3 separate regions of the Homo sapiens genome follow, and all the other regions are linked to region 1. Evidence: fine-mapped QTL for protein levels in blood plasma. A gene starts in region 1. Each other region holds a variant in brackets. All regions are shown on one strand. Distances are from middle to middle. Region 1 holds the start of PIK3AP1 (phosphoinositide-3-kinase adaptor protein 1). Region 2 overlaps PIK3AP1 (phosphoinositide-3-kinase adaptor protein 1). Region 3 overlaps PIK3AP1 (phosphoinositide-3-kinase adaptor protein 1).

The links. A credible set is the group of variants that fine-mapping cannot tell apart. PIP is the posterior inclusion probability: the model's chance that the variant is causal. Protein levels are from antibody-based Olink assays in UK Biobank. Linkage for the fine-mapping came from a reference panel and not from the study's own genotypes, which makes the PIPs less certain.
Region 2: its variant is the best candidate, but not a certain one, in a credible set for the plasma level of the PIK3AP1 protein (UK Biobank, PIP 0.54).
Region 3: its variant is the best candidate, but not a certain one, in a credible set for the plasma level of the PIK3AP1 protein (UK Biobank, PIP 0.69).

Annotation. Positions count from the first base shown.
Region 1 is chr10:96,715,278-96,722,024 of GRCh38, reverse strand. PIK3AP1 (phosphoinositide-3-kinase adaptor protein 1) reads left to right here and starts at 1,511. Exons shown (of 17, transcript NM_152309.3): 1 at 1,511-1,643. The coding sequence starts at 1,631. RefSeq lists enhancers at 920-1,029, 1,880-1,989 and silencers at 1,150-1,449, 1,500-1,749.
Region 2 is chr10:96,705,590-96,713,774 of GRCh38, reverse strand. PIK3AP1 (phosphoinositide-3-kinase adaptor protein 1) reads left to right here. Exons shown (of 17, transcript NM_152309.3): 2 at 3,792-4,208. Among named protein-coding and RNA genes, the nearest start is that of PIK3AP1, 11 kb to the left of the region's middle. The variant T/C (reference allele first, on the strand shown) is at 4,418.
Region 3 is chr10:96,641,735-96,649,919 of GRCh38, reverse strand. It overlaps PIK3AP1 (phosphoinositide-3-kinase adaptor protein 1), which reads left to right. Exons shown (of 17, transcript NM_152309.3): 7 at 1,065-1,261; 8 at 4,258-4,447. Among named protein-coding and RNA genes, the nearest start is that of TM9SF3, 59 kb to the right of the region's middle. RefSeq lists an enhancer at 4,379-4,448. The variant G/A (reference allele first, on the strand shown) is at 3,483.

The sequences.
Region 1 (6,747 bases):
TACAGGCGCCCGCCACTACGCCCGGCTAATTTTTTGTATTTTTAGTAGCGACGGGGTTTCACCGTTTTAGCTGGGATGGTCTCGATCTCCTGACCTCGTGATCCGCCCGCCTCGGCCTCCCAAAGTGCTGGGATTACAGGCGTGAGCCACCGCGCCCGGCCACTAGGATCCTTAAAACTGGAAGAGGGAGACAGAAGAGAGTCAGAGAAAGGGATATGATGACAGAAGCAGGGCCATCTGGCTTTGAAGATAGAACAAGGAGGCCATGAGCCAAGGAATGTGGATGGCTTCTAGAAGCTGAAAGAGCCAAGGAAATTGATTCCCTTCTATTTGGCAGAAAGAAACCCAGCCCAGCCACCACCTTGATTTTAGCCGATGGAGACTCATGTCACACTTCTGAGCTACAGAACTGTAAAATGATAAGTTGGTGTTGTTTTAAGCCACTAAATTTGTAGTAATTTATTATGGCAACAGAAGAAAATGAATGCACGGCCTCATCCTGATATTCCCGTTCTTAAATCCATTTCATTTTATTTCCACCTGGACTTCAGCCCTAACCTTGCCTCATCTCTGCTCTCTGGGTCCATCTTCTGGCCCCTGGATTGTTGAGAACTCCAAGGGGATGTGCTATTCAGTTGAATTTCGGCAGCAGGCAAAGGGAGGAGTCCAAGAAGAGGGCAGGTGAAGGCAAGGGTTAAGCAAGAGTTCTAGCTCTGGAAGCAGACTGGCTTGGTACTGAACCTCCGGGAGCTTTTGTTCTCTGTGGAAGCCTGAGCAAGGTATTTGGCTTGTTTCTTTGGCTCCAATGTAAAGACAGTGATAGGTGCTACCTCAGAAGGTTGCTGTGAGGATGCAATGCGATAATGTGTGTAAGGTGCTAAACGCAGCGCCCAGCAGACAGGAACACAGGAAATGAATGGCAGAGAAACTCTATTAGACATTTATCATGTGACATTATAATTAATGTTCATGTGCCATCAGGAGACCAGATCCAAGGAACGGCAGAAAGATCACAGGAGGGCACTCAAGGGCAACGCCGAGCACCCAGGGCCAGGTGCCCAGCCCTCCTCCTCTTCCCCTTCCTGTCCCCTCCCCTTTCCTGCTGGGGCAGCAGGGGCTTAGGGACAAAGCCCCAGGCGATGAGGAGGTGGCTTGGACAGCTGGTGCTCACACACACACACACCCCCGCCCTGTCTCCCAGAGGCCTGGCAGCCCCACACTCTCCCCCTCCGCCTCCTCCCCACACCCCCTCCACCTCGGGCTGCCCTTTGGTGGCAGATCAGGGCTGGTTTCCCGAGGAGTGGGGCGCACGTGGCGCGAAGCCCCCGCCTTCTCGCTGCCCCTGAGCAGGGGGCCGTGGGGGGAGCTGGCCGGCGGCCGGCATGGGGTTCTCACTTCCCCTCCCCAACGGCCGCGGGTGCAGGTGCCGCGGGCCGAGTCCCGCAGGCGGGGCGGACTCTGTGGACACGCCCTCGTGGCGAGGCCGGGCTGCCCTGAGGGAGGAAGCGCCAGAGCGGCGGCCGGTCCCGCGCGGAGCCCGGCGCCCCTCCAGCCCGAGCCAGGACGCCGCCGGCCCCGGTCCCGGCCCCGGGCACGCAGCGAGCCAGGGATGTGAGCGGCGCCCCGCGGCATGGCAGCCTCAGGTGGGTAGGCAGGCGCCGCGGGTCCCCGGGCTCCCGGCCCCTCTCTCGTACCCCGCATCCCTTGAGGCGCGCTCCCCCGCTTGCTTCTGTTTGCGTCCTCTGTGCGGGGATCTTGCCCTCTTTCTGCTCTTTTCTATGTTCCCTGTCGCAAACTTCCCACTCCAACTTTCCCACGTTTCCCGTCCCAGCCTGTGGCGCGATTCTCTTCAGCCCCTGCCTGGCCCGACCCCCTCCCACTTCTTCAGGGTCTCCTTCGCTCCCTCCACCTCTGGCCCTAGGAGTGTCTGAGCGTCGCTTCCCCTGTCCCTCCGACTCTGAAGCGAGAGGCGAGTTGAGAGAAGCGGAGGGCGGGCGATGTGGATGGTCTACAGGGCCAAACGCGTCTCCTGGGCTCCGTGGACCCACAGGGGGCGCTCAGGCAGTCCTAGGTGGTGCGGAGAGATCAGCCGGGGAGGCCCTTGGGACAGTTCCCCAAGCCCCGTTCCTCCACCCCTCCCAGGCTTTGTGTTTTGGGTCTAGAACTTTGCTAGGGATCTAGGAACACTATTCCTTGAACTTTACTTTTCCTGCGTCCTTTGCAGAACTTTGGGGAATGGGGAGAGTTGGCGGTCACTGGGTAAATGTACTCATCAAAGGGTGCCAAGCGTCTTTTCTGGCTGGTCTTGGGTTGCCTTCTGGTTCATGGGTGTACACACTTGGCAAGTCGCTCACTGACGGAGATCCAGGACAAGCCACATAATGATGATAACGGAGACAATTAATGAGTCCTTACTATTGCACTCCAATGGATACTGTGCACCTAATATGTTCTCCATGGTGGGCAGGAAACACCTAGTCTCTGCTCTCCAGGAGTTTATGGTCCTGTAGAGGAAAGCAATAAGTAAACAAGGAATTACTAGATGAGAGGAGGTAGAGTTACAGTGTTTACAAATGGGTTTACTTGTATTTTCCCAGCCCACTTTATGATGTTTTAGTAGGGATAACCTGTGAAAACAGGTTGCAGGTGCCCCTTGAAAAAGAAAATCTAGGTGGCCAGGAGAAGGCACTGTTCTTACAGGAGGTGAGCAAACACTGGAATGAAGAGCCAGCTCTCCCCAGATCCTCTGAGGGTCTGGTAAGGGTGCTTCGGAAGCAGAGGTAGAAAAGGCCAGGAGTGATTGTTCCATGTACTACAGGCTCATTAAAGGGGATGGGAAGGTAGTTAATCACAGCCTCCTGGCTCTCCAGCTGGGCTCTGGAGGCTAAAAGAAGCTGTGTTGTGAATAAGGAGGCCTAGTAATAGCAGGTAATATACACTTAATAAGGAAAATCTCTGGTATGACATGTGTTATGGGAAAACGATAAAGAAGGGTGAGGGAGACTGGGGTTAGGATTTTCAAATGAGGTGGCCAGGGTGGAGAAAGGCACATTTGAGCCAAGATTTCCAGGGGGAGGAGGCTCTTTGGGGAAGAGTGCTCCAAGCAATGAGTGTATGTGGTGCGTTAAAGGAAAGGGAGTAGGCCAGAGTGGCTGGAGTAGGTGGGCTGTGGGGGAGAGGGAGATGAGGCCAGATAATAAACCAGTGAAGCCGCCTCCTCCTTCCATGGTCAGGAACAGGCCCTGGGCTGCTGAGTCCAGGAAACCGCAAACTGGGAGGGCCTTTGGGTGGAAGAGTCTGAGAAAATGGCCTCTCTTTTCCTCTTTTCCAGCGTCCTGTGTACCTCTCTCCAGTGGACACAGCCGAAGGAGCTAGGAAGGCGAGCTCCAGTTCAGAGGGGGACCCTAGTCCGGTGGGCAAACCTGGGGCTATTTATGGGCTCTGTAGCAGCTTCTGCAGGTGTTTGTAATGGTTAGAGCTGTCAAACTGTCTTGCTGTCTGCGTCTTCTGTGGCGAGACACCACTCCAGGTGCTGTAATTGAGAGTTGGGTCTCTGGAGTCCCTCGGGTTCCCTGAGGTTTGGAAGTACAAGGACCCATGGGGGAAGATCACAGTGGTGAGAGCAATGCCGCTCGCCAAGGTGCTGTGGGCTTTGGAGTCATCCAGCCACCCTTCTGTATGTTCTTCTTTTCTTTTAAAAGCAGCTTTATTGTGATATAATTCACATGCCATACAATTCATCCATTTAAAGCATACAATTCAGTGGTTTTTAGTATCTTTACAGATATGTGTAGCCATCACCACAGTCAATTTTGGGACATTTTCATCACCTCAGAAAGAAACCTTGTATGCTTTAGGTATCAACCTTTTATTCTCCTCTCCTCTCCCAGCCCTAAGATCTACTTTGCCTCTATAGATTTCTCTACTCTGGGCTTGTATATGAATGGAATCACATAGTATGTGGTCTTTGGTGACTGGCTTCCTTTGTACAGCATAATATTTTCAAAGTTCATCCCACTGTAGCTTATATCAGTACTTCGTTCCTTTTTATGGCCTAATTCTTAAATTCCCTTCCACTGAAGGGGAAGCATTAGTCTATATTGTTTTCTGAAAGATGTCTGCTTGTTGAAATCCAGGAGAAGTTAGGCTCCCTGTCTTTGAAAGGACCTTGGGTAGGAAGATAAAATGAAATGGACTTGGCCTATTCCACAAAATTCTCTAGGCCCCTGATGGCATCTTGTGTATTTACACGTGAGAGAGAGGAAAGAGAGGATCCGTGAGTGACTTTCCCAAGTGGCCAAGTCTGTGGCTGGGTGAAGAAAGACTAGTACTCTCTCCTCTGTGTATCAGCTCTCATACCGTCTCTTGCCCCCTCTCTCCAAGGCTCTTCTCTTTAGATCCTTCTACTATTCCTGGACTTACAGGACCATGGAGCTTGAAGGGACTTTTAACCTTTTTGTGACCTTAACTTCCATGTGATCCTTGAGGCCTCTCAATACTCTTGCCAGTACCTAAATTTGAACAACTTCTGGGGTGGGAAGCTCCTGATATGATTGACCACATCTCTCCTTATCCTGGTCACCTTCCCTATCTCTCATCCCTCTTCAAATATGGTGTTCAGATTCAAACATGGGGCTCCAGGATGGATGAATGGGGTGCCAGAGTCACCTATAGGCTGAAGAAATGGTCTGGGCTGGGTGGTTTGAGAAGCTTTCTGGCACTTCCTGTCTGTACTTCTCTCCAGTGAGTTTTTTTTTTTTTTTTTTTGAGACGGAGTCTCACTCTGTCACCCAGGCTGGAGTGCAGTGACACGATCTTGGCTCACTGCAAACTCTGCCTCCCAGGTTGAAGTGATTCTCGTGCCTCAGCCTCCCGAGTAGCTGGGATTACAGGTGCCCACCACCATACTCAGCTAATTTTTGTATTTTTAGTAGAGACAGGGTTTCACCATGCCAGGCTGGTCTTGAACTCCTGGCCTCAAGTGATCTGCCCTCCTTAGCCTCCCAAAGTGCTGGGATTACAGGTGTGAGCCACCACGCTCGGCCCTCCATTGGGCTCTGAATCCTGCAAAGGCACCTCTCTTTCAGCCCCAGCTTTTCACCCCATGGACTCCCTGCTGCTACAGCCTCCCCTTCCTCTGCTGTGATCCATTTCTTTCTCCTTCTGTAGCCAAACCTGTTCTTGACGTTTTACGAGGACAAAGAAAGACCCTTCCTCATTTCTTTCTAGGGCTTGTAGACTCCTTGTTAGCTCATGTGTTTCATTTCTCTTAATAAATGAACAAGCAAAAAAAAAGAGAGATGTGATTGAGGATAAGTGGAAAAGCTACTTATGGTTAAAGGAAGAGGATTATTGCTGAAGAAAGGAGTTTCCCCCATATAAGGCAGAGTTGCTGACAAAGCATTTAGTCCTATATTGTTACCCAGCACATCAGAAAGGGACTGGAACTTTCACTTTGGACTTTTTAAAAACTTCCCCTTCTTTCAGTTTCCCAGCACAGCAATATTCGGGAAGGTGATAGATTTCATTGTCCTCATTTACATCAAGGCAAATTTGCCTAGACTTAGTAATTGGTCTAAGTCACACCACAGGTTAGTGACCAAATAGGTTGTAATGTTAACTAGTCTGAGGCAGTAATTAATTTCTCCTCAAATACTTTCACTCAAAGGGAATTGAATTTAACACTAGAACCCCAGGAGTGAGACATTGTGCATTTATTTATTTATTTATTTATTTATTTAATGAGACAGGGTCTCACTCTGTCATCCAGGCTGGAGGGCAGTGGTACGACCTGGGCTCACTGCAACCTCTGCCTCCCAGGTTCAAACAATTCTCATGGCTCAGCCTCCTGAGTAGCTGGGACTACAGGCGCATGCCACCACGCCTGGCTAATTTTTGTATTTTTTTGTAGAGTTGGAGTTTCACTATGTTGGCCAGGCTGGCCTCGAACTCCTGGCGTCAAGTGATCCGCCTGCATTGGCCTCCCAAAGTGCTGGTATTACAGATGTGAGCCACTGTTCCTGGCCAGGAATGAGACATTTTGAATAGCTGTTCTGTTTGTTTATTTGTTTGTTTTTTAAATATAGGAGATTTAAGTGCTCTTTATTTCAATTGTACTTTTTTTTTTTTTTCTTTGAAATGGAGTCTCGCTCTGTTGCCCAGGCTGGAGTGCAGTGGCATGATCTCAGCTCACTGCAAGCTCCGCCTCCCGGGTTCATGCCATTCTCCTGCCTCAGCCTCCTGAGTAGCTGGGACTACAGGTGCCCGCCACAATTCCCGGCTAATTTTTTGTATTTTTAGTAGAGACGGGTTTTCACCATGTTAGCCAGGATGGTCTCGATCTCCTGACCTCGTGATCCACCCGCCTTGGCCTCCCAGAGTGCTAGGATTACAGGCATGAGCCACCGCGCCCAGCCTCAATGATACTTTTAAATAAAATTTTATTTTAGAACAATTTTAGATTTCCAGAAATACTACAAAGATAGTACAGAGAGTTCTCATATAGACCACATCCAGTTTCACCTATTATTGACATCTTACATTAGTGTGGTTTTTGTGACAATTAGTTAACTGATACTGATAAATTATTAATAACTAAAAGTTCAGGCTTTCCTCAGATTTCCTTAGTTTTTATGTAATGTCCTTCTTCTGTTCCAGGAGCCCATCTCAGGTACTACGTTATATTTGGTAGTCATGTCTCCCTAGGCCCTTCAAGGCTGTGATTTTCTCTGATTTTCCTTGTTTTTG
Region 2 (8,185 bases), 9.0 kb after region 1:
GTGGCCCTAGAGTTTATAATTTTAAAAATGTTCACTTACTTTTGGATCACTAAATTCTTCTTATAAAATTGGAGTAATCACTCATGGCCATGTGGTCTTTAGAACAGTGTAAAGCTGTTGCTTTTCTACTAAGTCAATCAGTGCCCCAAAACCCAAGCTGCCTCTCAGTCTCAAGCAATCCTCCTACCTCAGTCTCCTGAGTAGCTGGGACTATAGGAGCACACCACCACGCCTGGCTAATTTTTGCTTTTTTTTTTTTTTTTTTTTTTTTAAGACGGAGTCTCGGTCTGTCTCCCAGGCTGGAGTGCAGTGGCGCAATCTCGGCTCACTGCAAGCTCCGCCTCCCAGGTCCATGCCATTCTCCTGCCTCAGCCTCCTGAGTAGCTGGGACTACAGGTGCCTGCCACAACACCCGGCTAATTTTTTTTTTTTTGTATTTTTAATAGAGACGGGGTTTCACCGTGTTAGCCAGGATGGTTTTGATCTCCTGACCTCGTGATCTGCCTGCCTCGGCCTACCAAAGTGCTGGGATTACAGGTGTGACCCACCGCGCCTGGCCTAATTTTTGCATTGTTTGTAGAGACGGGGTTTCACCATGTTGCCCAAGCTGGTCTGAAACTCCTGAGCTCAAGCAATCCGCCCGCCCTGGCCTCCCAAAGTGATGGGATTAGTAATGAGCCACTGGGCCTGGCCCCAAGCTGCCCTCTTAAGGGTTCTTCTTATGCTTAGGAAATTTTCTTCTTCCCTCTTCTTCACTTTTTTGCCATCACTTGCCAACCCTATTGAAAACACTACTTATGGTTTCTTCATCACTAGTATATGGGACCACAACCATCCCTTCCTGAGATTTTATTCTCCTTCTGCTTATTGCACAAATTGTTGACATGATACGCATATGTATGCAGAGGAAGGTGGTGGCTACCCTTTTTCACTTTTGCATTTTTACAAAATGCTCCAGGCTCCTTGCACAGCATCACTAACATTGCATCCTTAATGTTATAATGAAATGTAAAGTCTTGCACCTGTCCTACCTGATGGCTCGTGCCCATGCACGCACATCTGCAATAACACTTGACACTTAGAAGAACGTTTGCCTCTTAAGATAAACCAGCCACATAGGAAGGAAGGACAGAAAGAAGGTAAATATATTCTGATAATTTAACTCTGCTTCTCAATGTCAGTTGCATAGTTATGTAGCTTTGCCAATGTTATACCTTCTATAGTTTTGAAATGATTTTTCCATTGAGGTATAAAGAAATATTCTACACAGAAAAAAAAAATCCAAGCAGCAAAGATTTTTATTTATTTATTTATTTTTATGGCAGGCTGCAGCACTGGTGCATTAACTTTTTGTCCTTAATCTGTGTAAGCTTTGGAATCAGGGTAGGCATTCCTGAAAAGGACCATTATGTTCACAATTGAGGGAACAGACCGTGATCAGAATTGAGTTCTCTGTAGAACCACAAATGTCCAGGGCATCGTCAGAATTGCGGACTGGTTTTCGCCAGTTCCATACTGTTTGTCTAAGATTGCCTTTTTAAAAGATTTGTACACCTTCCCTTCAAAAATACTCTCAGGCGGATCAACTTGCTCCTGCTAAGAAGTCTACTGTGGGCTTTATATTAGCACTGGATTAGGGCTCCAGAAAACCAGGGGGACTCAAAACAGAATGAAACTGCAAACATTCGTTTTATTTGCTATTTTTAAAAATTTGGTAATATGGCCGGGTGCGGTGGCTCACGCCTGTAATTCCAGCACTTTGGGAGGCTGAGGTGGGTGGATCACGAGGTCAGGAGATCGAGACCATCCTGGCTAACACGGTGAAACCCCGTCTCTACTAAAAATAAAAAAAAAAAATTAGCCGGGCGTGATGGCGGGCGCCTGTAGTCCCAGCTACTTGGGAGGCTGAGACAGGAGAATGGCGTGAACCCGGGAGGCGGAGCTTGCAGTGAACCGAGATCGTGCCACTGCGCTCCAGCCTGGGCGACAGAGCGAGACTCCGTCTAAAAAAAAAAAAAAAAAAAAAAAAAAAAAATTTGGTAATCTCATCCTGGGGGAAATCAGAACTATGTTGGGCTTGCATTGTACATGTTGCTTTTTGGTTTGAATATAGTGGTGGATTGGATGGGGGCAGGCAAGAGGATTCATCCTATGATCTTTTCAGAGCCTCTAGGTCTTGCCTAAGTCCTGCCTCTGTCCTTTTCAACAGGAAGCATCAATGAAATGCGGCCCAGGCCTAGCGTTTAATTGTTTTAGTCTACAACTTAGGTGGTTCCCAACCTTCATAAAATGTGACCAGCTTCCTTCTCTGAGTTCCCTGTTGTGTTGTATGGACACTTTATACTCACCTCTTCCAAACCACACACAGAACAGTTTGTTGAATTCATGGAGAGATGATGACCCAAAACAGTGGTAACAGTTACATTAAGAGCCAAGCTTTTTTGAACTTTGGTAGTTGGAAGCTATGACTTACTACTCGTAAGATTCTTGACATAGTTCCTGATGGGTGGTGCAGGTGAGTTGGGAAGGAGGCTGGACTGGGAACCAGGGAATAACCTGAGTGTCAGTTCTGGCTCTGCCAATAATCTAGAGTATGAAGTTGAGCAAGTCCCTTAACCTTCCTAGATGAAATGTTTCTTTCATCTGTAAATGAGGAGTTTGGGCCAAGTGATCCCTAAAAGCCCTTTTTGACTCTCTTTTTGGCATTTGTGCTTTGTTAGAGGAAGAAAGCCTATGTTATAGGCCAGGTGTGGTGAGGGACACCTTGCAGATTGTATTGTGGAGGTAACAGCATTAATTCACAACTACCATGCACTTTAATATGATACATTATTTATATTCATGTGAGGATGATGACACCAGCTACCAATTCCTGAGGGTTTTCTATATGACAAGCACTGTGCTTAGCAGTTTACATGAAATATCTAATTTAACTCAAATCCTTACTTGGCCACTGTGAATCTTGTGCAAATTACTTAACCTGTCACACCTCAGGTTTCTCATTTTTTTAAAGAATGGGCTAATAATAGTACCTACCTTCTAAAGTTGCTGTGAAGATGTAATGAGTTTAGTAGGCAATGTGCTTGGAAGAGTGCCTGGAACATAGTAACCTCTATATAAGTGTTTGCTGTTGCGATTATTATTATTTATTATTATTGTTATTATTGTTATGATCTCATACTGCTTCAGGTGTGGGGGGAAGGTGCATGCCAGGCAGAAGCAATAGCTCGTGCAAGGATCTAAAACAGTATGGGGTTGGGCCTGGTGGCTCACGCCTGTAATCCCAGCACTTTGGGAGGCAGGGATGGGTGGATCACTTGAGGTCAGAAGTTCAAGACTAGCCTGGCCAACATAGTGAAACCCCATCTCTACTAAAACTACAAAAATTAGCTTGGCGTGATGGCAGGCATCTGTAATCCCAGTTACTTGGGAGGCTGAGGCAGGAGAATCGCTTGAACCCGGGAGGCAGAGGTTGCAGTGAGCTGAGATTGGGCCACTGACTCCAGCCTGGGTGATAGAGCGAGACTCAGTCTCTAAATAAATAAATAAATAAATAAATAATAAAACAGCGTGGTATGTTTGGGCAAAGATAAGGAGTCTGGTATGATTGGAACACAGACTGTAAATGGGGAAAGAAATGCGTGAGTGAGGTGTGCTGGTGTGCTGGAGGCACACCACGAAAGATTGTGGGTGCCAGACCCAGTGTCTGGATGCTCTACCTTTGCAGGCTGTGGGGAGCCACCTAGAAGGGGAGGTGTGCTAACATGCTTCTGTGCCTCATTCTTGTCCAGGGGTGCCCAGAGGATGCGACATCCTCATCGTCTACAGCCCGGATGCCGAGGAATGGTGCCAGTACCTGCAGACCCTGTTCCTGTCCAGTCGGCAGGTCCGCAGCCAGAAGATACTGACTCACAGGCTGGGCCCCGAGGCCTCCTTCTCGGCAGAGGACCTAAGCCTTTTCCTCAGCACCCGCTGTGTCGTGGTGCTGCTGTCCGCGGAGCTGGTGCAGCACTTCCACAAGCCCGCCTTGCTGCCCCTGCTGCAGAGAGCTTTCCATCCTCCGCACCGCGTGGTCAGGCTGCTCTGCGGCGTGCGGGACAGCGAGGAGTTCCTAGACTTCTTTCCAGATTGGGCCCATTGGCAGGAGCTCACCTGTGACGATGAGCCAGAGACCTACGTGGCAGCTGTGAAAAAAGCCATTTCCGAAGGTAAGGATTTCTTCTAAAGATAAGCAAGCCCTAGAAAAGTTGCTAATCCAGGTCCTAGGTGTAAGTTTATATTCCAAAATGAGCGGGGATCTCACTATGTTAAGAGACCTGGTCATATTTATGGGTTTAGAGCAGCCTATTTCTGGGGTGGGATAGGGGCAGGACAGCTCTCCTGGACTATCAGGAGAGGAAGAGGACACTGTCCCTTT[T/C]CTTCTGTACTAGGGCAAAGGCCTTCTTTCTAGAATTTTCTGTGCCTTGGAAGACACAGGACAGAGTTCCAGCCTAGAAAGTAGTTGGGGCTGGGAGGCAGAGACTTAGTTTGCTGTTGGTGTGAGGAACAAGACTGCCCACTCTCCTGCTTGCATGTTACTTCCATTTTATCATCACGCGAACTTCACATTTTTGTTAAAAAAGGGTTTTTTTTTTTTTTTTTTTGAGTCGGAGTCTCCCTCTGTCACCCAGGCTGGATCGCAATGGTGCGATCTCAGTGGACTGCAACCTCTGCCTCCAGGTTCAAACGATTCTCCTGCCTTAGCCTCCCGAGTAGCTGGGATTACAGGTGTGTGCCACCATGCTTGGCTAATTTTTTTCTATTTATAGTAGAAACAGGGTTTTATCATGTTGGTCAGGCTGATCTTGAACTCCTGATATCAAATGATCCACCCGCCTCAGCCTCCCAAAGTGCTGGGCCTACAGGCATGAGCCTCCGTGCCCCGCCAAGGCATTGTTTTTTTCGATAACATGTTTATAGAGAAATAGCCCTCTTCTCTATTTCCCACCAGCCTAGCTTCTATATTTTGCCATTTCTCCTTTTAGAGTAGGAAAATTCCGATCCTTTCTGCCGGGGTTAGTGACTTCAGTGGCCCCAGGAAGTGTGACACACACTCTGATTAACAGTAACAGAAGACATGCTCTGGGATGGACACATATCACAGCTTTTCTTCCTCTTTTTGCTTTCTTTTTGCTTTTTTTTTTTTTTTTTTTTTTTTTTTGAGACAGATCCTCGCTCTGACGTCCAGGTTGGAGTGCAGTGGTGTGATCTCAGCTCACTGCAACCTCCACCTCCTGGATTCAAGTGATTCTCCTGCCTCAGCCTCCCGAGTAGCTGGGATTGCAGGTGCCCACCACCACACCTGGCTAATTTTTGTATTTTTAGTAGAGACGGGATTTTACCATGTTGGTCAGGCTGGTCTCAAACTCCTGACCTCAGGTGATCCACCTGCCTCGGCCTCCCAAAGTGCTGGGATTACAGGCGTGAGCCACCACGCCTAGCCTCTTTTTGTTTTCTATTTTTGCCTCACTGTGGGCTATGAATGGGCTATGTGTTTATATTCTGTTCTCTTGCCACATGAGATCTTATATACCTGACGCCAGCAAAGAAGCCTGGAAAATTATGGTCCTGATTTAACTGTGCCTCAGTTATCCCTGGTGTGACTTGGGCATTAATTTGTCTCACCCACCCCTATGCCATCTGATAAATGAAATCAAGAATTTACTAATTTTCAGTGGCCTTAAAAAGGTAATGTAACTTCCTAGGTGCTTTTATCCCAGGAATTGGCTACTCTAAACCAATAAACATGACCACGTCTTTTAACAAAGTAAGATTCCTTCTCATTTTGTAACATAAATCACTAGTGTGAATGTAAAACATGTCTCACCTGAAATGCCGGGACCTGGATTAGTACTTTTTCTAGAGTTTGCTTATCTTTACGTTAGAAAGACAATGATAGAAAAAGCATATAATTCATTTTTGCATGATTGCCTTTCATTACTTTGAAGGAATTGTGATCTGCCCAAACTTACAAAAAACTGAGACACAACTGGTTGTTTCTGTGGATGATCTTATGTCATTGCATCGGTCCATTAGGATCTCGCAGGCCAGCCCCTGGAACCCACCATGGATGTATTGCCACTGACTGGGCATCTCATACTGTACGCTGTAACAGATTGTTCTTTAAAATATTACAGTAGTGTGGCTGGGCGCAGTGGTGCACACCTGTAATCCCAGCACTTTGGGAGGCCGAGGCGGGCGGATCATGAGGTCAGGAGTTAGAGACCAGCCTGGCCAATATGGTGAAACTCCATCTCTACTAAAAAAATACAAAAATTAGCTAGTCGTGATGGTGCGTGCCTGTAATCCCAGCTACTCGGGAGGCTGAGGCAGAAGAATCACTTGAGCCCGGGAGGCGGAGGTTGCAGTGAGCCGAAATTGTGCCACTGCACTCCAGCCTGGGCGACAGAGCAAGACTCCGTCTCAAAACAAACAAACAAACAAAAAACAGTAGTGTTATTTTTTGAAGTAGATAGAAAAAAGGATTATTTTAATATTGTTTGGATGTGTCCAGTGATTCAATACCTGGATAAATTGATCTCTTCTACTATTTCACTTTTTACCAAAGACTGTAGTTCAGTATGCTATGAGCCTTTAGCTTCAAGTGTCTCGGAAAGAATGAACTCATTTACAGGGTGCTCCTGTTCTAAGAGCAGGAACTTCTCATCAGAAAGAGATTACTTTAATGGGAGATTAAAATAAGCTGCTTAGTGGGATATCTTTGCAGTTCAGAATCAATGGATATAGGGACAAATGGAATTGTAAGAAAGAGAAGAGGAGGAAGGAAGCCTTATAGCCTCAATATAACTTTCTTATCTGGTATTAGGTTTGTGAATTTGGGGATTCAAGATCTCTGTCGGTGCTAGGATGACTTGGGTTTGCTTTTTGGGTATTCCATAGCCATGGCCCTTGGTTGGCCTTGACTCTGAGGCCATATTCCTGATTTTTTTTGCTGGACAAGCTTTCTTAACAAACCTGATACTCAGAGTCTGGCAGTGTAGAAAAAAGAGCATTGACCAGGGTTAGGGACACTGCATTACCCGGCTCTGCTGCTAACCAGATGCCTAGTACTGAGCAAGTCATTTTGCCTCTTTGAGTTCCAGTTTCCTTTTCTGTAAGTGGCAGATTTAGACTTGATCTAAGACACTTCCCAAGGCTAAAAATCTGTGATTCACCTAGGCCAGAAAATCTTAAATATTTTTGAAGTATGACCTTCTTGCCACATTTCATACCTGCTTTGACTCCCAGGAAGCTTAGGGCTAGAACAGTATCTAAAGACAGTACTCTCCCTACACTACATTTCTGGGATAATTGTGTCCTTAGGTACATTCCCTATAACTTGTGATAACCCATCTTTTTAAAAAATACTCCTCTTGCATACATGAGGTTTTCCTAAGGTACCTCAAAATAAAAGCAAAAGCTAATATTTTCATATACGTTACTACACCAGCTGCCCAGTCCCATGAGAAATAAGTACATGAAACTTGTTTCTTTGACTTTCTCTGTTAAAAAAAAGAATCCCAATAAGAAATTGGCTGGGCATGGCCGGGAGCGGTGGCTCACGCCTGTAATCCCAGCCCTTTGGGAGGCCGAGGCGGGCGGATCACGAGGTCAGGAGTTTGAGACCATCCTGGCTAACACGGTGAAACCCTGTCTCTACTAAAAATACAAAAAATTAGTCGGGCGAGGTGGCGGGCGCCTGTAGTCCCAGCTACTCGGGAGGCTGAGGCAGGAGAATGGCGTGAACCTGGGAGGCGGAGCTTGCAGTGAGCCGAGATGGCACCACTGCACTCCAGCCTGAGTGACAGATCAAGACTCCATCTCAAAAAAAAAAAAAAAAAAAAAAAAAAACAACTGGCTGGGCATAGTGGCTTATGCCTGTAATCCCAGCACTTTGGGAGGCTGGAGCAGAAGGATTTCTGCTTTGAAGTTTGAGACCTGTCTGGACAACATGGCAAAACCCTGTCTCTACAAAAAATACAAAAATTAGCTGGGCATGGTGGTGTGTACCTGTTGTCCTAGCTACTTGGGAGGCTGAGGTGGGAGGATCACCTGAGCCTTGGAGGTTGAGGCTGCAGTGAGCTGTGACTGAGCCACTGCATTCCAGCCTGGGGATCAACAGAGTGACACCCTGTCTCAAAAAAAA
Region 3 (8,185 bases), 73 kb after region 1:
AACACAAACATGTCCATTTTCTTGGTTGAGTTTAACTTGCTGTATTCAGATGTCAGTAGGTGGAGGGGGTCCGTGGGGACCCAGCACCTCTCTGGAGTACTTTGCTTTTCACCAATTAGAGAGTGAACTGACGTCCTGGTGGGGCTTGTGTGCATTAAGACCAACATTCAAAATCTCTCCTAAATAGGAACCCTGCTGAATACTATCTTACTTATCCTCCCAGGTCCTTTTGAGATAGTCTGGAAGTATTTTCTGGTTGAGAACTAAAGGCAGCGGAAAGTCTAAGGAACATACCCAGGATTACTTGGTGTACTTATCATGAAATTAGGAATAAGGGCTAAGAGGATGAACTGCTTTCTTTTAATCAGCACGAAACAATAGCTTTAAGAAATACATGCTCTGAACTTTGCAGAGAAGTTCAAAACATGATTCCTATTGTACTGTGTGGCTGCTAGTTAAGCCTTTAAACAAACCCGGCACATTTTGAACTGGTACTTTTTCTCAGGATTCTCCAGTCCTGTTAGAGAAGATGGTAGGGTATTCATTATTAGATTTGCTAATTAATTAAAATGTTATGGCCGGGTATGGTGGCTCATGCCTGTAATCCCAGCACTTTGGGAGGCCGAGGCAGGTGGATCACTTGAGGTCAGGAGTATGAGACCAGCCTGGATAACATGGTGAAGCCCCATCTCTACTCAAAATACAAAAATTAGCTGGGCGTGATGCACAGCTGTAATCCTAGCTATTTGAGAGGCTGAGGCGAGAGAATCACTTGAAACTGGGAGGCAGAGGTTGCAGTGAGCCAAGATCGCGCCACTGCACTCCAGCCTGGGTGACAGAGTGAGACTCCATCTCAACAAAAAAAATTATGTCCTCTGCATCTGAGGACATGATCTTCAGTGGTGTCCTGAAGGAAGCTGTTAGATGTTAGGTCAGTCAATCAATAAGTAATGGCTGAGTGCTTTCTGTTGCCATGCTAGTCTTGGCAGCTTCATCTCCATGAACAAGGGCACCCTGTGCCTTTATTTTTATCTGCCTATTAAGTTTTCCTTGATAATTTTCAGATCAGAGGGATGAAGAGCTGCCCACCCTGTTGCATTTTGCTGCGAAGTATGGACTGAAGAACCTCACTGCCTTGTTGCTCACCTGCCCAGGAGCCCTGCAGGCGTACAGCGTGGCCAACAAGCATGGCCACTACCCCAACACCATCGCTGAGAAACACGGCTTCAGGGACCTGCGGCAGTTCATCGACGAGTATGTGGTAAGGTCAAGGCAGGAGGGGCCCAGGATTGGAAATGCACTCTGTGGTAGTATGGCTGCCCTTTCACCCAAAATACGAACAGATTTTATCTCTAGCATGTCCTCATGTACCTCTTCTGGCCATGGGCAGTATGTGTGGGCTTAAGAAATGAGGTCTGGAGTCACATGGACCTGGGTCCAAATTCCTGTACCAACACTTGTTAGCCTTGTGACGTTGGGTAAGTCACGTATCCTCTCTCAGTTTCCTAATATGCAGAAGGAAGATAATCATAGTTTGAGTCATAGAGTTCTTTTGAAGGTAAAAGGAAATCATTTCTATTAAGCACTGAGGTTCACCCTCACAGAATTTACAGAAACCTTTATAGAGTGAATCTGCTGAAGGTAGAGGCTGATCATCTCCCCCCACCTCCTCACCTGCCTCCAGGGCACCATGGTGGGATGCTCCTAGCTGCCTCACCCGCCTTCAGGCCCCGGTGAACTGTATTAGGCTTGGTTTCTTCTTCAGCAGAAACCTCAATAAAGCTGTGCACCTGGAAAGGCATCAGGGCAGCAACTCTAAGGCCCACCTCCTGCTGACAGCCTCGCTCTCTCTTTCTAACCCCCTGCCTGGGTCCCATGTTAAGACAGGCAGGTATGCCCAGTTTATCTGATCATCTGGTTTGGGGCCCTCAGCTCCTCCTCAAACATTGACTTCTGGGTCCTTCTTTGAGGCTGATCGCACCCCACGTCTACATCTTATTCCATGCCCCAATATTGCCTCTGATGCCTAGGAAGCAGCTGCTCTTCCTGATCCCAGTCCCTCGTGGTTTTCCTCCTTCTTCACAGACTCCCAGAGGGTACCTGAGAATAGCTCAGCCTCTCGCATGGGGCTGTGACCTCACAGGGAGCAATAAACACAGCCCGGTCTTGCTCTCGACCTCCAGACAGGACAGAGCCTGATATCTCCCCAGAAACTTAACTCTCTGCTCTGTGTTGGAAAATCTACAAGACAGTGATTCACGGAGGCACAGAGGGGACTTCCCAGTGTTTACAGGTGTATAAGTGTTTTGAATAAAATGGTGTGAGTCCTTTTTTTTGGGCGTCACTGACACAAATAAGTCTAAAAGGTGCTCTCAGTCTGGGTGTATTTACTCAGTTTTTTCTTAAAGTCACAAATGTACCAAATGTAGCATTTCATTTCCATGCCAATAGTTTTTATTAATAACCTACTGTGTTCATAGTAGTAACTAGTATTTATTGAATGTATTTGATTTGAAAATGTATTATCTCATTTAATCCCCACCACAATCCTTTGAAGTTGACAGTATTGCAAGCCTTACTTTACAAAAGAGGAAAACGGCTTAGAAAGGCAAAGTCACTGTGCTTAGGGCCACAGACTATTCAGGGCAGAGACAGGATTTGCACCTAGTTTGATACTGAAGCCCGGGCTTGTTATCCTGTTGTATTTAACTGGGATGTTTAAAGATGCACTTTCATTTTGTGCCGAAGTCAATCTAGGTCATACCATCTTTGCTTTCTCCCTGTGGTCACCTTCAACCGATGCAGCTTCAGCATTGTGACCAAAAGACTGTCCCTTTGTGTTGCTTATGGCCTCTTAGAACTGTCCCATTTCCTTTTTTCACCACATCAAAACCAAAGGTGAGATCTGGAATCTCCAACATTTCACAGCTGTCATCTGTTTTATTGGGTCTCGTGAGGAAACTAACGAAGTGTCAATAAAAGATTAGCTATCTTAGGGTAGTGGTGGTGAAAATGAGGATTTTTGTGGGTTGATGCTGAAATAAGGATTGTGAAACACCAAAGTTTCTTACCAGGAAAAGTTGTGCAGAGGTTTCAGGGAAGTCACCTCTCTGGCTTCACAATCACATGGAGGCAGGATGGCAGTGGGAGGCAGGGGAGAACCTTTCTGATGTCAGGACACTTTATCCAAGATCATCTCTCCTTTTGGGCACATAGGACATAAAATCGAGGCTGGAACCCCTGGAAACTGTCAGGGTTCCTGACAGTTTGGAGGAGACTGCTGAAGGAACAGGGGCTAGTGTGCCAAGCTGCGGAGTGACCTCTGACTACACACAGGGCGAGAACACCTTAGCTGCATTCCTGTTCAGCTCATTTGAATTTCTGCGTGGCTAGTCAGTAAAGGTCACACCTTCTTGTGTCATTTTTTTCCCTTTGGAGGAACCACTAGGGTGTAGAAGAAGTATCAGAAATCAGGATTGCAA[G/A]CCCTTGAGTAAGATACTAGATTTTTGTGAGCTTTGTTTTTCTCATCTGTAAACTAGAGAATATTATACCTTTCTCAAGCAGTAGTGGAATGGATTACAGGAGATAGGGTATAGGCAAATACCTAGCATTGTACCTGACATTTAAAAGGTGCTCACGGGAAAGTATTTTTTTTTTTTTTAGACAGAGTCTTGCTCTGTTGCCCAGGCTGTAGTGCACTGGTGCGATCTTGGCTCACTGCAACCTCCACCTCCTGGATTCAAGCAATTCTCATGCCTCGGCCTCCCGAGTAGCTGGGATTCCAAGCGTGCTCCACCATGCCCGGCTAATTTTTGTATTTTTAGTAGAGATGAGGTTTTGCCATTTTGGCCAGGCTGGTCTCGAACTCCTGACCTCAGGTGATCCACTTGCCTTGGCCTCCTAAAGTCCTGGGATTACAGGTGTGAGCCACCACATCAGGCCATGGGAAAGTAATTTTTAATTTGTATCCTCTGGTCAGTGGACATTTAACGAGTATTTCCTGAGTGCCTAACTCTGTGCTTAGTGTTGTAGGAAGATACGAAGATTAAAACAAAAACGTGAAATAAACTAAAAAAGGTGGGAAGCCTGGCCTCAAGGAGCGTTCAGTCAGGTGGGAAAATACAAATACACACAACCAGTTGTAATCCTGACTCATGGGAGCCTTTACTTTGCTGGCCACAAGTGCCTTCGGGGGCCAAGTTCCACCCGGAAAGTCAGGCTGCCTCAGGGCGCCGTGGGCCTCATCTTCTCTTTCAGGAAACGGTGGACATGCTCAAGAGTCACATTAAAGAGGAACTGATGCACGGGGAGGAGGCTGATGCTGTGTACGAGTCCATGGCCCACCTTTCCACAGACCTGCTTATGAAATGCTCGCTCAACCCCGGCTGTGACGAGGATCTCTATGAGTCCATGGCTGCCTTTGTCCCAGCTGCCACTGAAGACCTCTGTAAGTAGCACAACCCAGTTCTGCTTCCACCTTTCTGCTGAGAAACAGCTTTTTTCATTCCGGATGAAGATGGCGCGGGGCAGTCCCTATGTACCCTCACTTCACCCCAGAGAGATGAAGGTCCTGTTTTACACAAAGCTAGGGCTGGAGTCATGTGCTGTGACAAGCAGAATTCTTCTCCAAACTTCCTCTGTTATGACTGCTGGGAGAGTTTAAGCAAATATCTGGAAGTCAGAATTGATGAACTCATTGCCTCGTGATCTGAGAGGCCAAATCAGTGGCTCTCAGCCCTCAGTCTCCAGGGGTCCTTTTTATAACAAACATTTTCCTACTCTGACATGAGGTTTATGTATTATATAACCTACCTACATATAAAATTCTCAGAAATCAAATATACTGCCCTAATTGAAATAGGAAAGAGAAATTAAAGAAGAGGACATACTCAAACATGCCTGCACCAGAAGTCATGACAAAAGAGTCAGATGCAGACACACTCAGAATCACGGTCAACGGCTTCAAACATTGACTGACACGTTTGCAGTCTTGGTGGCTCAAATGATGGGAATAATGTTGGCATTGGCACCTGGATTTTCCTAGATGGTGAACAACTCTTTATGATTTCCTTTCCATTTTCATAGAAATTGAATTTCTAAAAAATTAAGTGTTTGCAAAAATAAGATGTGTTTATATGTGAAACAGTTTAGGTTCTAGGCTCAGAAAATAATAAGCAGATTTTTTGGGGGGCGAGGGGTAATTTGATTTTATTGCATTAATATATAGTAAGCTTATTTTCAAAATATCATTCTTCAGGATCATGATTTTTCTTATAAACTGTCTAACAAACTTTGCCCACTTTTTATTATCTTGTTTTTTCCAATGCAAAAGTAATGCCTTTTGACAAAAGTGAATGAGCAGTAGAAGTTCCCCTCCAACACCTAAACTCAAAACAAAATAGGAATCTTTAACTGAGTTGAGAGAAGTTCTGTGACTTGTGACTCCCAGCCAATATGGCATTGGTAATAATTAGTAATAAAATGAGGTATATTTGTCTATATTTTTGCTTATATCTGCTGACATTAAATTTAAAAATACAGACATACTTGTACATATACACAGATATGTAGAAATATACACATAGGTATAAATATGTATCATACGTACTTTTTAAAACTTATGTGTATGTCTAGGGAAATATTTGAAAGTCACGAGGGACATGAAACATCTCTTCATTGGGCAGGGCTGTCCCACACATAGCAGGATGTCTAGGGTCCTTCCCCCTTTTCCTAAATGCCATCTCCTTGGTGACCACCCAAAATACCCTCATAGATTTTCCAAACGCCCCCAGGGGGCAGTGCCACCACCCTTGAGAACCGCTGATCTGGGTAACAGTGGATCTGATCTCCACGCACGTACTGGAGTTGAAGCAGGAGACCCACACAGCAGGCCCTCTAAGAGGCTTATTCATGTGTTACCATCATTCGCTACCAAATGCTAAGCATGCGGAGGCACCACCGGAGACTTAGCCCTCCTTCCCTCTGGTTTTCATTAATAGATTCAAGGAAGAGAAGTATCAACCAAGGTATCAGCATTATGGATGGGGGAATTTCTGGAATGGGCTATATTGAGTGTTACAAGCCTTCAGCCTGAAAAGAAGACAGTAGGGCCCTGGGCCCACAGGGAGGCGGGCCTGACTTTCCCATCCATGAACTCATGGAAGAGCAGGCACCAACAGGATGCCTTGGAGAGAAGGCATAGGTTGGTCAGAGGGCCAGAGGCAGTCTCTGATGCCAGCAGGCCTTTGACACTGACCCCAGAACCTGCAAGATGTGGTCCAGAGGTTGTTAGGTGTTTGCCATTCAGATTGGGTGCTCCTTTAGGGGAAAGAGCAATAAAAGCTCCTCTCCGTCACCTAACTGGGAGGCTTAGAAGTGCTGGTGGAAGCTCTTCCAGAATGAGCTGTGCCTTGGCATGGATGTGGGGAGAGAAAGCACCATCGCTACCATCCACACCCTTGATTTCGGACCTGAAGTCCGAAAGCTACCCCACTAAGATGCTTTTCTTACCTGCACTTTACAAATGGGGAAACAGAGGCACAGAGGGGCTGAACATTCCCAAAGTGTCACAGCCAATCAGTGATAGAGCCCAGATTTGAATCCAGATTTCTCTGTCATTAGGACCATATTCTGCAGAAATTGTTATCCAACACCATGCATTTTAGTCGTGGTTCCTTTTGGAAAAACCATCTAGCCTCTATAGCCTTTCTTCCCCTATCTGCAGCTCCAGATATTGGATAACAAAGCAGCCTCTGGCGCCCCCTAGCCTTGCCCATCATCCTATCCATATACCTAATAAGCATGTCTGGAGCATCTAGTACATTTCGGTTACTGATGTCTTCTGGGTGTTGGAGATACAGGCGGGGAAGTGGGTAGGACCCAGTCCTTTCCATTGTGGAATAGGGACTCACTCACAAAAGAACACTTGGAGAACCACCAGTACCCACTTGAATCTGGAGACTGCATCATCCTTTCTGCCCTGTGTCTTTGCTATGAAACTACTGGACAATTAAAGAATGCCCTACTTTATTGGCAGTTTAGTGTTGACAGAGCCTTACACTTGCTGTCCCCCTGGATGTTCTAACACATGCCATGCTCCCACCACAGCACTGGAAACCTGCAGGGAATGCCACAGGTGTCTCTTCCATTATTCCTGGTCTGCTGGGCCCCTCACAGCAGGATCAGTGAGGTTTACCAGGGCTTCCCAAGGCAGCAGTGTGCTCTGGAGCTAGCCTGGTTTGTAGCCAACTGGCAACTTGTGAAGTCACCCGGGCCAGGGGGCTTCTGGATGCCGTGTAGCTGGAAGGAGGCTACCAGCGGGGAGGCAGCCTGTCAAATTTGGCTACTTTTTGCATGGGAAAAGGAAACCCACCACATTTTTCTTTCTTTTCTTTTTCTTTTCTTTTCCTTCCTTTTTTTCTTTCTTTCTACCTTTCTTTCTTTCTTTCTTTCTCTTTTTTTCTTTCTTTCTTTCTGTTTTTTTTTTTTTTTTTTGAGACAACATCTGGCTCTATTGCTCAGGCTGGAGTGCAGTGGCACAATCTCAGCTCCCTGTAACCACTGCCTCCCCAGCTCAAGCCATCCTCCTACCTAAGCCTCCCGAGTTACTGGGACTACAGGTGTGAACCACCATGCCCAGTTAATTTTTTGTATTTTTCATATAGATGGGATTTTGTGATGTTACCCAGGCTGGTCTTGAACTTGTGAGCTCAAGCAATCCGTCTGCTTTGGCCTCCCAAAGTGCCGGGATTACAGGCGTGAGGCACCATGCCCGGCCCACATTTTTCATTTCCCCAGTTATGTGAACTCTGAATTTTCTAACTCTAGACATGGTTTGGTTTGTGTTTCTGTCTCTGTGGCGTCAAGTTTAACCTTGAGAATGATCGCTTACCTCCTGGCTCAGAAGCAGCAGCAACTTGGACCTGGGGAGGAATAATTTATTTTACTAACAGTGGCTCTGTAGGTGACAAGGCAGCTTAATTCATAAAGAAGTAGGATAAAGGACAAACTGCTAAATCTAAAATGCGTATTTGCAGCACCGCCCAGCAGAATAATAACTTGGAACATCTGGCAGCCCTTTAAAAGTCCATGGACTGCCTGTATCCCCGTGATCTCATCTGACCATCCCAGGGTTTAGTGAATAGGATGATCTCCATTTCACAGGAAAGAAAACTAAGGCTCCAAG